Homo sapiens: one gene and its partners. The protein of the gene in region 1 interacts with the protein of each later gene in a pairwise test. Each region holds a gene or a part of one and is shown on either strand. Other genes may lie near its edges.

What was found.
Region 2: the proteins of TOLLIP (region 1) and GUCD1 interact in binary tests that used the Homo sapiens proteins (3 or more experiments, as listed by UniProt).
Region 3: the proteins of TOLLIP (region 1) and ZRANB1 interact in binary tests that used the Homo sapiens proteins (3 or more experiments, as listed by UniProt).
Region 4: the proteins of TOLLIP (region 1) and CDIP1 interact in binary tests that used the Homo sapiens proteins (3 or more experiments, as listed by UniProt).

Annotation. Positions count from the first base shown.
Region 1 is NC_000011.10:1,299,455-1,303,469, forward strand, and holds part of TOLLIP (toll-interacting protein), read right to left. Parts: intron 3,337-4,015; exon of another isoform or gene 3,130-3,336; intron 559-3,129; exon of another isoform or gene 424-558; intron 1-423. UniProt on the Homo sapiens protein: Component of the signaling pathway of IL-1 and Toll-like receptors. Inhibits cell activation by microbial products. Recruits IRAK1 to the IL-1 receptor complex. Inhibits IRAK1 phosphorylation and kinase activity.
Region 2 is NC_000022.11:24,544,726-24,548,740, forward strand, and holds part of GUCD1 (protein GUCD1), read right to left. Parts: intron 3,349-4,015; coding exon 3,183-3,348; intron 2,281-3,182; coding exon 2,189-2,280; intron 1-2,188.
Region 3 is NC_000010.11:124,945,021-124,949,035, forward strand, and holds part of ZRANB1 (ubiquitin thioesterase ZRANB1), read left to right. Parts: intron 1-4,015. UniProt on the Homo sapiens protein: Ubiquitin thioesterase, which specifically hydrolyzes 'Lys-29'-linked and 'Lys-33'-linked diubiquitin. Also cleaves 'Lys-63'-linked chains, but with 40-fold less efficiency compared to 'Lys-29'-linked ones.
Region 4 is NC_000016.10:4,509,756-4,512,573, forward strand, and holds the end of CDIP1 (cell death-inducing p53-target protein 1), read right to left. Parts: coding exon 2,817-2,818; 3' UTR 914-2,816; downstream 1-913. Other genes in the region: HMOX2 (heme oxygenase 2), read left to right, coding at 1-1. UniProt on the Homo sapiens protein: Acts as an important p53/TP53-apoptotic effector. Regulates TNF-alpha-mediated apoptosis in a p53/TP53-dependent manner.

The sequences.
Region 1 (4,015 bases):
TGACGACACTCGGTCCTTCAGTAAATGTCTATTTTGAATTTATTTTTTAAATTCAGTGCTAATCCTAAAATTTATTTTTGCCATATGATGATGGAGGAACTATTTCAATGGTCACATAAAAATATATGCTTTACCCTGGTTCAAAGGCTTGGAAATATGAAAACAAAAATGATTACTCCCGATACATAATGGATATTTTTCTAGAATTTTGCTTCCATGTACAAGATGCACATACTGAGTTCAACACTAACAAGTCTAAATGCCCGTGTGAAGGCCAACAATTCCACTTCAGGAGCCAGTCCCCTGTCAATGCTCACTCGGGCACGTGAGCACAGGATGCCTGAGGCTGCGTCACCTGTGCCGTCAAAACGCCCCGTCCACCAGCCAGGCACATCCACCCAGCGCATCGCCACGCGGCCTCACCAGGAGCCGGCGGTCCCTGCCGCGAACACATGGAGACTCGGGGGACGGAGGCGGAGGCGGAGGTGCGGCACGACCTGCTGCAGGGAGCCATAAGGAGGCCTCTGTCGACACCAACTCTGGAGGAGCATTCAGGAATGGAACTCGAGGGAAACAGGCAGGGAAGATTCTATTTCAATTTATTTATACTTTTATATCCTGCTAGTTATTTTTAGAAACTTTTTAAAAACATTCGTGAATTACTTTTAAAATAAAAAGGACAGGGTAGGGCTCTCATCCCACAGAGCTCACAGCATTTTATCTTCTCTGAAAATAAAAGCTACTTTTATAAATATTAGTCTGTTTTAAATATAGTTTTAAAATGTAACTTCAAATTTCTTGGAATTGCTGATTCTCCTCCCCCATGTGCCGCTCTCAGAGGATCACGACGCAAGCCTGTGACTGACGACCATTCCTCCCTCACTGACGCCAGAGCTCTAAACCACTGCAGCGTACCTTTCCACACGAAAGAAAAGAGGTCTCCAACATTCACTTCTATTTAAAACAATTTCTCTTCAAGTCTAAGTTTTAGTTTTGGCACAGAAATAAAGTCTTAATTCTTCTTTTTTGTCATGCAATGTGTGTAGTCAATCCAAAGCTAATTTTTCTTTTTAAGCACACAAATTAAACACCCACTGTGAATATTCCTGTTGGTGACACGTCTCCAACGGAGAGAGCCGCTGCTTCCTTGGGCCACACTTTCTGCCCGACACCTGTTAGGAATACGTTTCCGACTGAGAGTGCCGCTGCTTCCTTGGGCCACACTTTCTGCCTTGACAGAGCCCCGGAAGAGCCCAGCTCAGCCCAGGACGTGGAGTCCTGAACACATGCAGTCCTGGCCTCACGCCTGCCAGGAGACATCACCCCAAGGAGCCGCACCACAGTCGCCCCTGAAGCACGGCTGGCCACACGCAGGCGGCAGGAGACCAGGGTTTCCTGGCCACTTCCATGACTGGCCCCCTGCGGAGCCTTTTTAAACCTTCTCACCGTTCCCACCCCATGACGCTGCGAGGCTGTGGAGGTGCTGTTTGTGTCTGTGTGCCACGCATGCACCTGCACTTGGCATGTAAACACTGCAAGCAAGGCTCAACGAGTCTCAGCGCTAACGCCAGGTTAGCATAACTAAGTCGAACGAAGTTCAATTAAAAACTAAAATGCTTCTAGCACTTCATGACTATGCGCTGAGCAGCGCTGAGTGTAATTTATTTACATAAATTGTAATGTATCAAATCACACGTAGAAATAAACAACTTATATAAACACAATAAAAAATATCCTTAGTGAACTGAAGCTTTTGCTTGATGTGAGAAAGTACCTTTTAACTGGCTGGCTGGTATTCTTTCAGCAAACTGACATCATTAGCGATGGGCTAAATACGTTCTGTGGAATTAAATCACAAAATGTCGACGATTCTCATTCAATTCTCCAAGCCAGAGTCTCACACCAGCACTGAGGATCCCACACAAACGGCATCCGCAGGCGCCTGCCCACCCTCCCCACCCACCTCACAGCAGGTCTGAGATCGCACATGTGTCGCGGGCTTCCGAGAACTCCGTATCCATGTGCTGGGACACCCAGAAAACCCAGGGACAATGAAATACTAAGGAGCAAGAAATCCAGGAGCTGTGCTGGGGAGGCACACACGGCCGCCAAACCCCAGAAGTTTCCTCCCCCAAGAACCCCTTGTGCCCTCTCAGGGTCAATATCACCCCCACATTGAGAACAAGCGTCAAGGACTCCTGAAGCCACAAAGCCAGCCCACGGAGGCCCCAACACAGAAGCCCAACTAGTGAAACTCTGTACCCTGAGCCCTAGGTTTCTCCAGTTCCTAACATGGCCATGATTCAACGTGACTTTCAGAGCTGGGACCCACAGCAGGAAGACCTGGGCTGGGCTCGTGGCTAAAGGGACAGAGGAAGCTAATGAAACAGAGAGAAATAAATCCCCCGTAGTAGGAACATCTAGGGATATGGGCGGAAGTCAGTCTCAAAGCCTCTTGGGCGAGGTCTGAGTGTCTGCTAGGAAGGGAGCCCCAGACTCGGTCAGGGCCCCAGGACTCACATAGAACAGCACAGTTGGTCCAGATGAAGCTGAGAACCTGGAGCCCAGGTCATCACCAGCCTCCCTGCTGTGTCTGAGGGGCTGGCCCTGCCTTGAAGGCCCTGCAAGGGGCCTGCTCCAGGCCACTGTCCTACAGGGGATGTCTGCTGCTAGGTTCACACCCAGGTCAGAGCTCAGTCTGGCCCAGGAGAAATGGCCCATCCACCCGATGCCCGCACACCTGTGTGATTCACATCCAGATCCGGGCGTGCAAGAGGGCGGGAACGCGCACCAGGGCTGAGACACAGGGCCGTGGGCAGTCAGGACAGACCCTGGGTGGCCCTGGCGGTCCCTCTGCCCAGCTGACTGACCCCTCAGTGCGCAGGGTTTCAGAGACTGAAGTGCCAGCCTGCACATGCCCCAGGCCTGCACACTCACGGCCAAGAGGGGAGCCCCGTGGAGGTGAAGGACTCACCGACACTCACTGGTGGCCACTGCCATTGCCCTGTAAGTTTAGCATTTTCCAAAATAAGGCTAGAAGGAAAACTGCAATTCCCCATGCCCACTCAGCTGCTGGCTCCCTCACCCACCACCCTTCACAGCACCAGCATCCAAAAGCTGGACCAGTACCTGACCCTGCAGCCCCTGGCACTCCAGCCAGCCTCGGCCTCACGCTCCACACCAGCCTCCTGACACTCCCCAAAACCCACTCCAGCCAGCCTCGGCCTCATGCTCCACGCCAGTCTCCTGGCACTGGCATGTTCAATAAACAACCCTTGAGCAAATAAGTGGCATTTCATGCAACTGCTCTTGGCAAGGCAGCTCCCACGCCAGTGTGGACGGGCAGTGGTGACTTTGTCCCCAGTTCCCACATCCTCCTCCCACGGCCGCTCAGCAGCCCCCTCCCAGGAGCCCTCGCTGAGCACTCATTCGCCGTGCCTTGTCTCCCCTTCCGGGGCCTTCCTCAGACAGGGCTTTCCTTCCCTCTTCCTATCACCCCCTCCCCTCTTCCTTTAATTATACAAAACACAACAGGCGCTTCAAAGCCAACATGCCGGGAGGTTCCCTGGCTCTGCTAAAGTCTCAAAGCAAACACTAGAATTTGTGTAAGGGAAGCTGGGAGATGACAGTATTGAAACGAACCCGTGTAAGCTGAAGAGCGGTGAAAGGGAAGAGTACAGGACAGAATGAGAATAAGCATAGATTATAAAAGCTGACTACAGAACAAGCGACTTTAAATGGGGTCTCTGCCAGGAACTCCACTGCAGGCAGCCTTGCATCCTAAGTGCTGGGACGGTCAAGCAAGGCAGAGGCGGAAAACCCCTTCTCATTCAGATGAAACAAAAGCCAGTCAAGCAGCAGGCCAAGGGCGGACAGAGATCCAGAGAGGGACGGCATGTGACGTGGCAGGCCCTGGGCGCCGGGCACAGGGCGCGCGCTGCGGCAGCCTCTGCGTGTCACTGTGTGCCTGAGGCTTCCATGGTGAGGTGCTGGGGCACCCCTGCTCCTGGGATGC
Region 2 (4,015 bases), on another chromosome or scaffold:
GCAGGGCTGGGCACAGTGGCTCACACCTGTAATCCCAGTGCTTTGGGAGGCCAAAGCGGAAGGATCGCTTGAGACTAGGAATTAGAGACCAGCCTGGGCAACACAGCAGTACCCTGTCTTTACAAAAACATTTAAAAATTTACCAGGCGTGGGGCGTGGTGGTATGAGATTGTGGTTCCAGCTACTCGGGAGACTGAGGCAAGAAGATCACTTAAGCCTGGGGCTGTAGCAGTGAGCTGTATTGCAATATTGCGCCACAGCACTACAGCCTGTATGACAGATTAAGACCCTGTCTCTTAAAAAAAAAAAAAAGAAAAGAAAAGAAAACACCCAGAGGGACAGAGGGCAGATGGGGCTGTGGGCAGGGGGAGCTCTAGGCCAGGGGCTCCTGCATCTTTGCTGGAGGGGCTGCTCACCCACTTGGGGCCTTCCTTAGGAGTGGCAGCATCAGTACCATGTGGCCTGACCCAGCTTCAGCCACAGCTGAGTCACGTGGCAGTTTGGATTGCTGCCTTGGCCAAGGAAACATGCCATTTTTCCATTTGGTCTTTGAAACAAAATAGCTGGCTGAGTTCCCAGTGGCAGTGCACAGGAGTGGGATTTCAGCTATAGGGAAAAAGCAGGGGCTTGGCTGGAAGGAAAAACTACAGGCTTCAAGGAATAACAAGCATGGGTTCAGATCATGGCATGGCCAAGATGCTGGGGGTGACCTTGGGTGTCTCTCTCCTCCTCAGTTTCCTCCCCCGAGAAGCAGAGATAGCAACAGCTTTCCCACTCAAGGAGACAGCACCTGTTGAGGGCTGCTAAATAAACATTTGCTGCCTTTCCTTCCAACATGTGCCCATGTGGTCATAGTATGAATGGAGATCCCACCCCACTATATTCTTTTTTTTTTTGAGACAGAGTCTGTCTCTGTTGCCCAGGCTGGAGTGCAGTGGCGCGATCTCGGCTCACTGCAAGCTCCGCCTCCTGGGTTCATGCCATTCTCCTGCCTCAGCCTCCCGAGTAGCTGGGACTACAGGCACCCGCCACTGCGCCCAGCTAATTTTTTGTATTTTTAGTAGAGACGGGGTTTCACCATGATCTCGATCTCCTAACCTCGTGATCCGCCCGCCTCGGCCTCCCAAAGTGCTGGGATTACAAGCGTGAGCCACCGTGCCCGGCCTGTTTTGTTGATTTTTAAAGCCCGGGGCAGTACTCTTGGAAAATGTCCCACATCCTGGATTTGCCTTTCTGTTTCCTTGAGGGCAGATTCAGACAGAGTCTCGCTCTGTCCCCCAGGCCGGAGTGCAGTGGCACTATCTCGGCTCACTGCAAGCTCCGCCTCCTGGGTTCAGGCCATTCTCCTGCCTCAGCCTCCCGAGTAGCTGGGACTACAGGCGCCTGCCACCACGCCCGACTAATTTTTTGTATTTTTAGTAGAGACAAGGTTTCACCGTGTTAGCCAGGATGGTCTCGATCTCCTGACCTCGTGATCCGCCCACCTCAGCCTCCCAAAGTGCTGGGATTACAGGCGTGAGCCACCGCGCCCGGCCCCCAAACCCCCATTTTCTAAATCACCTATCATGTGATTATACTACGTCAATAATGAAAATATAAATCCGCAAAGAAAGGGAAAATCTGAGAAGAGCCTGTCCAGGACCTAGAGGCAGCAGGTCTGAGCCCCACTCCCACGTAGCCCAGAAAAGAATGTGACCCACATCTGGGCAAACTGCACCCAGAGTCTTCCTGAATCCAGCCCCAATGCATACAGATGAGAAGAGGAGGCCCTTGTAAGGTCACAGCAGCCCTTACACACTGGGTCCTCCCTGTTCCCCATCCCTTGTCAATCACTGCACCAGCACATTCCTCTTAGGCCATCGCCCTTTCATTAGGGGCCTTGTGTTCTGTCCCATGCTGTCTTTCTGCAAGTAGCCCAAGGGCTGGGTGCAATCTCTCTCACTCACCTATCCCTCCAGCACCTGCTCAGGATCCACCCCTGGTCAGAGCCTGGGTCATGTAGCCCCAGTGAGCTCCATAAACCAAGGCTCAAGGGGGCAAGTCAGTGCCCACAGCCACCCGGGTAGCCAGTTCTGCCTGGCTCCAGAGTCCTAGCCTTTCCTGAACACCATCCCGAGGCCTCCCCACTGCAGATCTGTGGGTGAGCAGGCATGAGAGGAAGGGCAGGTAGGAAAGTTGGGGGGCTCACCATTTCTCCACCAGCACCTTGCAGGCCTTTGCTTGTGCAAACAGCTGATTCACCCGGGTCTCTTCTGTGTCAAAGTGCTTCCTGTAGAAGGACTGAACAGAGAAGAGGGGGATGGAGTGGCCACCACCCAGGCTGCCTTCACTCCATTTAGATGAAGGAAATAAAGAGCGTGTTACAGAGGCAGAGACAGCAGGAGGGCAGAGGAGCCCCACCTGCCAGGGCAGACGGTACATGCAGCAAGCCAGATCAGAAAGCTGTCTGTCCTAAGCAGGAGCAGGGAAGCAGGACCACACAGAGGCATGAGGATGATGCTTGAGAGAGGGGTGGGCAGCTGGGCTCAGGTCAGCTCTCTGGGGAGGATCGATCACCCTTGGGCTTGTACACTCTGGCAGGCATGAGCAGGAGCCCGTAGCGAATAAGCAAGGGGGATGAGGCTGAACCACCTGGGACAGCTCAGCTACAGCTTGGCTTAGCTAGGTGTCGTCCACGGAACACACTTTGCTGGCATGGCTATGTTGGCATTATTTTTCAAAAGGCAAAAAAAAGAAAAGATGGTATTTTGGTTTTCTTCTAGACTACCAATTATATAGCTTAAAAGCTGGCTCTCCTGGTGAAAAGTAAAAAAATGTGCAAATGATGGCCGGATGAGGTCAGTGATGTTCTCAGAGGCCCTGGGCCTGCCTTGTGCTGAGGACAGTAGGAAAGAACGTAGGAAGTGGCCTCTGCACATTCTGAGGGCTGTAGAAGGCAGGTGGACAGGAGCCAGGACTCAGTACTCAGATCCTCTGGGCAGGCCCGACTGCAAGGGCACCTGCTCTGACTGGCTCCCAAATCCTGCCTATAGCCTCTCTGCTGCTGCTCCCTGGTCTCTGCACACCTGGGTATCTACCTGGGTGTCTAGCCCTTGACTGTTCCCTCTTCCAACTACTGGAACCAGGTGGCCTTATACCTCTGTGTGGCCCCACATGGGAAGGCCTGGTGGCTGGTCGCTCACCTGGTTCTTGTAGCCCTTGTCGACACCCAGGGTCTGGGTACAGAAGCGGTGCCTCACGCCAAAGTGGTGCATCAGGTAGGCCAGGTCGATGGTCCAGATGCTCCTGGTCAGCTGCAGCTTCTGCAGGGCTCTCTCAAACTCACTGTCGTCCAGCTGGCCCAGGTACCTGCAGGTAGACGAGCTGGGGAGCTCAGCTTGGTCTTGAGGGTCAACTGGTCTGAGTCACCCTCCACCCACTGGCCCAAGAGCCCCGTCACAGGTCCCATTCCCCAGAAGTCTCCCTCCTTCATCATGAGACCCTAGGTCCTGCCCACACACTGCCCAGGCTGCTTGGGGCACCGTCCTGGCTCCAGAGTTGCAGGCCTGGACTCTGCTTCTCAAATCTATTGTGTCTTGTGGGCTGTGACCTTGAGCAAGTCATTGTCTTCTCTGGCCTCTTTAGCTTCATCTCTAAAATAAGGTCCCTGATCACATCAGTGGTTTTCAAAGTTTTAGGCAAAGAACGCTTTTGTTGAATTTTCTCTTGCTGAGATTCCCAGGATGTAAAACAGATGAAGATGCAGCTGCCCTGTGGTTCCAGGAAGCCAAATGAAAAACTCTTGTACAAGGTGACGGCTACAGTCCCTCTTGGCTCTCACTGTCCAGGTTTCTGTGATATTCACACAGCCTCAGCTTAACGGTCAGCACCCCATTCTCCCAGGAGCCAGAAACTGGGGAGTGGAGGGCCTCCTATCCCAGTCACAGAACTGCCTTGTAGGACAGGCCTGGGCACCTGGGACTTCCTGGCCACCCCAAGCCCCCAGACATTACTATCATGGAGAGCTGGAAGGCCT
Region 3 (4,015 bases), on another chromosome or scaffold:
ATTGTCAGTTAAAAAAATTTAAACAGGAGATACAAAAGGGTTTTGTTATTAGTTTCCTTAGAGATCAAATTGATTTAACATAAAAATTCACCGTTTTGCAAGTGAACAACTCATTTGGCATTTAGTGCATTCACATTGTGTAACCACTACCTCTGTGTTGTTCCAGAACATTTTCATCATCCCAAAAGGAAACTATGTACCCATTAAGCAGTTACTGCCCCCTACCCCTACCCGCTAACCCTTGATAACTGCCAGTCTGCTTTTGGTGTCTGTGGATTTACCTATTCTGGATATTCATATAAATGGAATCTTTACATATCTGTGAGCTTTTATGTTGGGTGTGATTGTCTTTTAATTGCTTGTATGCCTTTGGAACAGTCTTAAAATCATTTTTTTTTTTTTTTTTTTTTTTTTCAGGGAGTAGTGTACTATGAATACTTGGACTACAAGGTGGTGTTATAGTACATGTAGGTTTATAGATGAAAATGAACTAGACTTCATTGTGACGGTTCTTAACCTCACAGTGAAGGTCACTAAACCTCACTAAAGGTCATAGAATCCTTTAGGAATCAGGGCTTCATTTCAACCCCCGGTTGCTTCAAGTCAGTGGATCTCAGGATAAGAACACCTGATTTGAAATATTTTCTTTCCTTGAAACACACAAGTTAGATGAATCAACATGTTTGTCTTTATGACATTATTTCTTCTTGGTCCTGCCTTTTTCTACATATCCTTACTACTTTTGACTAGACGACTAGCCATCCTTGTACCTCTTTGCATTTTATTTATTTTTTTGAGACAGGGTCGCGAGGCTGGAGTGCAGTGCTGCAATCATGGCTCACTGCAGCCTTGACTTCCTAAGCTCAAGCCATCCGCCCACCTCAGCCTCCTGGGTAGCTGGGACTACAGGCGCATACCACCACGCCTGGCAAATTTTTGTATTTTTTTTGGAGAGACGGGGTTTTACCTTGTTACCCAGGCTGGCATCTTATTCCTGTGCTCAAGTGATCCACCCACCTCAGCCTCCCAGAGTGCCAGGATTACAGGGGTAAGCCACTGGGTCCGGCCCATCTCTTTGCATTTTAATCACTGAGTTCAATTTAAAAGTGGAACAAGGCCAGGCACAGTGGCTCAGGTCTGTTAATCCCAGCACTTTGGGAGATTGAGTTGGGCGGGTCACCTGAGGTCGGGAGTTCGAGACCAGCCTGACCAACATGAAGAAACCCCGTCTCTACTAAAAATACAAAATTAGCCGGGCATGGTGGCACATGCCTGTAGTCCCAGCTACCTGGGAGGCTGAGGCAGGAGAATCGCTTGAACCTGGGAGGTGGAGGTTGCAGTGAGCCAAGACTGCACCATTGCACTGCAGCCTGGGCAACAAGAGCAAAACCCTGTCTCAAAAAAAAAAAAAAAAAGAAAAGAAAAGTGGAACAAAAACTTCTACCAATAGGACCAGTATTGGATTTGACGTTGTTTTATTTATAAAATGATTTGTCATTAAGTTGCTGTTTCTACCTGCAAAGTTTCTAGATTCTTAGGGGCAAGGGTTGATTGTATTTGGTTCTTGGTAATGTGGACTATGTCTTTCCTATTGGCAAATAATTTTTACTATTAACTCTACAATGTCATTCTGAACTGTTATACGTAAGGTTATAATTATAGGCCTGTTTCTATGGGATAGCCATATTCTGATGTGTAAACATAACTGAAATATGTTAAATACTTTTTTTAAACTTGTTTACATTGTGTTGGGTTAATTTAAAAAAAGGCTTGAGCAGTAAGACTAACAGAAGTTCACATGTACTCAAAATTAATCTTTACGTCCCTTTTCTGCCTGCCTTATGTTCCCCAGATTTCATTAGATACAGTGTATTTTGGGTTATTGATGTTAAGTGTTTTTTAAAAAATACATCTCTAAAGTAGTATATACACTGAGTATAAAATGTGAGACTTTTCCATTTAAAGTTGGAAAAAAATTGCAACCTCAGGTCAGCTTTGTAGCTGATAAACTAGGAATGAGGAAGATTCAGTTGTTGAGAGGGCAGATGTCAACTAACACATCAGCAGTATCGAGCAAACATATTGACATAGCTGTTGGGTGTTAAGTTTCACATAAGTCATATTATCTTATGTGGTGAGAGGATGTTGGGGACAGCTGTGCCAAAACCTGATATCAGTAGTAGAGCCTGAGGTTGAGAACCAGGGTGGTAAAGGTAGAGGTGTGAATGTAAATGTACAGTTGTCTCTGGAATGTCTGCAGTTGGTACTAGATGTTTTTAGGTACATCAGGTTTTTAGGGCGGTCATGTGAGCACTCACCATAGACTGCTTTTCTCACTGGGTAGACAATAATGTATCTAGAGAATAGAGCAGCACTACCTAATGCCCTGCTTTTGTTCTGCTATTGTATTGAATCAGTTGCCTTATGAAATTGCACTTCAATTTGTGTACATAGATACGTCCTTAAAAAGACACAGGGTTAGATAAGAACACCATATTAAATCTGTGCTGTAATGTGTATTCCTGAATCCTAGACTCATATATCCAGCTGCCTATTCAGCATCTTTCCTGGAGTGTTTAAAAACTCAAGCTCATTTCAAGCTCAGTAATGCTAAAACAGAACTGATCTCTCCTTCAAATCTATTTTTTCCCAGGCTCTCATCTTGGTTGATGGCAAATTTCTCATTCCATTGCTTGTGCCAAAAGCCTTGGCCCTCCTTGATTCTTCTTTCTCTTATGCCCCACTTCTATTTCTGAGAAGATTCTTTGGCTCTACCTTCAAAATATATCTGTACTCTGACCACTTCTCACTATTCTTGTCCAAACCATGATCTACCCTTGCCTTTGCCCTCCGTACAATCTGCTGTCATCAGAGGAGCTAATTCTTCTCAGAACCCTCTAGTGATCACCTGTTTTACTTGGATTAAAAGCCAGAGTCCCTCAAAAACTCTACAAGGCCATCTACATGCTCTGTATTGCACACTTCAGCTTCCCTCCATATACTTTTGACCCTTGAATAACACAGGTCTGAACTGTGCGCGTCCACTTATACGTGAGTTTTCTACCAGCTCTGCCACCCCTGAGACAGCAAGAATAATGCCTCTTCTTCCTCCTCCCCCTCCTCAGCCTACTCAAGGTGAAGATGATGATGATGAAGACCTTTATGATGAGCCACTTTGACTTAATGAGTTGGTAAATGTATTTTCTCTTCCTTATGATTTTCTTAATAACATTTTCTTTTCTCTAATGTATTACAAGAATACAGTGTATAATACATATACAAATATGTGTTCGACTGTTTATGCTATTAGTAAGGCTTCCGGTCAACAGTAGGCTATCAGTATTTTGGGGGGAGTTAAAAGTTATACATGGATTTTCTACTGTGTGGGAGATTGGTCCCCCTAATCTCCATGTTGTTCAAGGGCCAAATATAGTTTATCTCTGAACTAATCTGTTTTCCACCTTTTCCATTTCATTCCAGCCACTCTTGCCACCTTTTTTTTTTTTCCTATAAATAAGCCTCAAGCCTTTTACTTGCTGTTTGCTCTGCCTGGATTGCTCTCCACCTTCGCTTCTTTTCTCATGTATTGCCTTCTCAATGAGGTCCTCCATGACTGCCGTATCTAAAATTTCATCCCTGTCCATTATCCCTCCCCACAGCATTAATTTTCTTCATAACACTTCTAATATGCTTCATCATCTTGTTTATTATTTGTCTCTCTCTACTCTAGAATTTAAGCTTCCTGAGGGCCAGTAATTTTATGTTTTGTTCAAAGCTGTATCTTAGTATGTACAACAGTGCCTGCTACATACATACTAGGCACTCAGGTATTTTTATATCAATGAACGAATGAATATTTTTGGGAACTAGGGTCTGGGCAAACCTTTATCCTACTCCTCCTATGAATTTCTAGATTCTTTGCCTGCTTCCTAGCTCTCTATGTTTTTCAATAGTTGGGGCTCAACCCAGGAGAGCCAGTTTTACTTCTCACTGGTTGTCAGGAAGACTGAGGTAA
Region 4 (2,818 bases), on another chromosome or scaffold:
AAGCACCCATCATGCCACACCGGTACCCTCCTCCCGACTGACCACTGGCCTACCCCTTTCTCCAGCCCTGACTAAACTACCACCTCAGGTGACTTTTTAAAAAATGCTGGGTTTAAGAAAGGCAACCAATAAAAGCCAGATGCTAGAGCCTCTGCCTGACAGCATCCTCTCTATGGGCCATATTCCGCACTGGGCACAGGCCGTCACCCTGGGAGCAGTCGGCACAGTGCAGCAAGCCTGGCCCCCGACCCAGCTCTACTCCAGGCTTCCACACTTCTGGGCCCTAGGCTGCTTCCGGTAGTCCCTGTTTTTGCAGTACATGGGTGACTATCTCCCCTGTTGGAGGTGAGTGGCCTGTAAGTCCAAGCTGTGCGAGGGGGCCTTGCTGGATGCTGCTGTACAACTTCTGGGCCTCTCTTGGACCCTGGGAGTGAGGGTGGGTGTGGGTGGAAGCCTCAGAGGCCTTGGGAGCTCATCCCTCTCACCCAGAATCCCTCTAACCCCTTGGGTGCGGTTTGCTCAGCCCCAGCTTATCTCCTCCTCCGCGCTGTGTAAATGCTCCAGCACTCAATAAAGTGGGCTTTGCAAGCTACCTCCTTCCCTGCCTCCTGGCACCGGGTGGGTCAAGCCACCTCCCCATAGGAGAGTCCCTCAGAAGCAAGGGCATGTTATGTCTGTGTGGGGAGTGGACATCGTCCATCATGGCTCCCAGCAGCCACCTCCTGCTCTGGGTCTACTCTCCAGCACCTCTAGTCTCCAAAGCAAAGTCACTCTAACCGTCTTGCAAAGATCTTTAAAGTGTATCCAGCACTGCTATTTTTTAGCTCAGAAATACCTTAGAGGTTTCCTACTTAAAAGGTTTTTTTAAAATATATATATATATTTAAAAATAAGGGTTTTAAAAAAGCACATATTTGTATTTAAACAATTCATTCTCTAAAAGAGAAACATGAACTTAAATAATTTTATTAATAGGAATCTACTACCTGTAAAAGTTTTATTTCAAAAAGGGTTAAAAAGTAGGGAAACTCTTTAAACTACTGACCAAGACTGCCACCTTCATAATTCAGATGAGTTAGTGCAGAGATGGCCAGGGCCAGAGGTCGCCCAGAACCTGCGTGTGCAGACTGCGCTCTGTTAGTCTTCTGCCTGTCAGCCTCAGCCCAGTCTGTGTTGCTTAAGGGTGCGCCTCCCCAGGGCTGGATGATGCTGTGCTCAAGCCTGCGGGTAGGAGGGCTCCAGCTTGCAGATCCCATGCGTGGATGCCATATATAGATGGTTGAAACCAGCATCAGAGGAAGGAAGGTGACCTTACAGCCACTGCCGAGACCAACGTGTGCCCTGGCCCAGTCACAGCTGGAAATCCCAGGGCTGGTCTACACCCGACTCTGGTTTGGTTTAATTAGGTCCTTACGTGTTGGTGTTGTCCCAGGCAGTTGGCATGGCATCAGCACTGAGGGTGTGAGACCCTGAGGACTCAGCCTCCCGTCCTGCCAGTAGACTGCCTGCAGCCCCACCCTCTTTCCCTCAAAAAAGAAGGAAGCCAGGCAAGAGAGCAGAGGCCCAGGGCGGGGGAGTGAAAGGGCCAATTTAATGAGAAACTACAAACTGAGACTGGGCCACGATTCACAGTGACAGGAGGCCATGCAGTGGCAGTGCGAGACCAGGAAGGACAGTGGCAGGATACAGTGGTCCAGGTGAGCAAGTTCACAAACCATTCAGGAAATAAAGACAGGGCGAGGCTGGTGTCCACCAAGGCAGTTCTACCACTTGTGGCTGCTCCTTCCTCGTCCCTAGCCCAGTGTGCCTGCAGGAGCAGGTGTGAGCAGGCACAGCAACAGCCTGTCAGCTGGGGTGAGGGGCCCGGCACTTACAGGGAAGAAAATCCATGGAGAAGGCTCTGCACATCCAAGCGCACCCACAAGGGGGACCCTCTGCCATCTCTTGCCCAGTTGGGATACACCAGCCACCAGGCAGAGGTCATACCCACACGCAGTGAGGACACAGGGCAGACGGGAAGGGGCTAGGCTCAGGGGCTCCTTCCGGCCCCAGCAATACAGGGTTCACAGAGGCATGGCCTGAAAGGGGGTCTGCACACTGACTCAAAGGGACAAGTTCCTTCTTAGCTACCAGGGTCTGATCATTCACCCAGGTACAGTGTCCTCTCTACCTGACACCAGGCAGCTCTCGGGCACTGGGACAGGGTATTAGACATCCTGGGCTTCTATACCTGAGAGTTCTGAGGGCCAGAGTTGGCAGTTTTACTTCCAGCCACCATGCCCCACCTCTAGCACCCCAGAGGCGCAAAGTACCCAGAAACAAACCCAGGCTTTGTGACCCTGTCCTACGTGGGCCCACCTGACTCCAGACAACTTACCCATTCTCGGCCCAGCAGGTCAGAAACGCCTGTGGCCACAGGCCTGGGGACTAACTGGCTAACTGCTCTGGCTGCTGTTGGTCCCAGGGGGAAAGAGTCTGGACTGAACCTGTACCTTGTTTGGAAACAGAGGCATCAGGACCCCAGCAGGAGACCCCTCCCAGCTTATCTTCCCGATCACACACACCAAGCAGACCAACAACACACAAGCTCATTGTCAGCCCCCTGCCACCCACTGACCCTTGGCCTTAAATCCCAACAGAATTTTTGCCAGAAGAGTCAGCGGCTCAGGTAGGGCAGGGTGAAGAGGACAGGACTTCTAGGGGATGGTGGCACGGCTCCCAGCCCCAAGTGGGAGCGGGAAAGTGACCACTGAGCACAGGGAGCAAAGCACAGGGGGCCAGACTGACAGGCGGGGGAGTCCCGAGTCCCAGCTCCGTT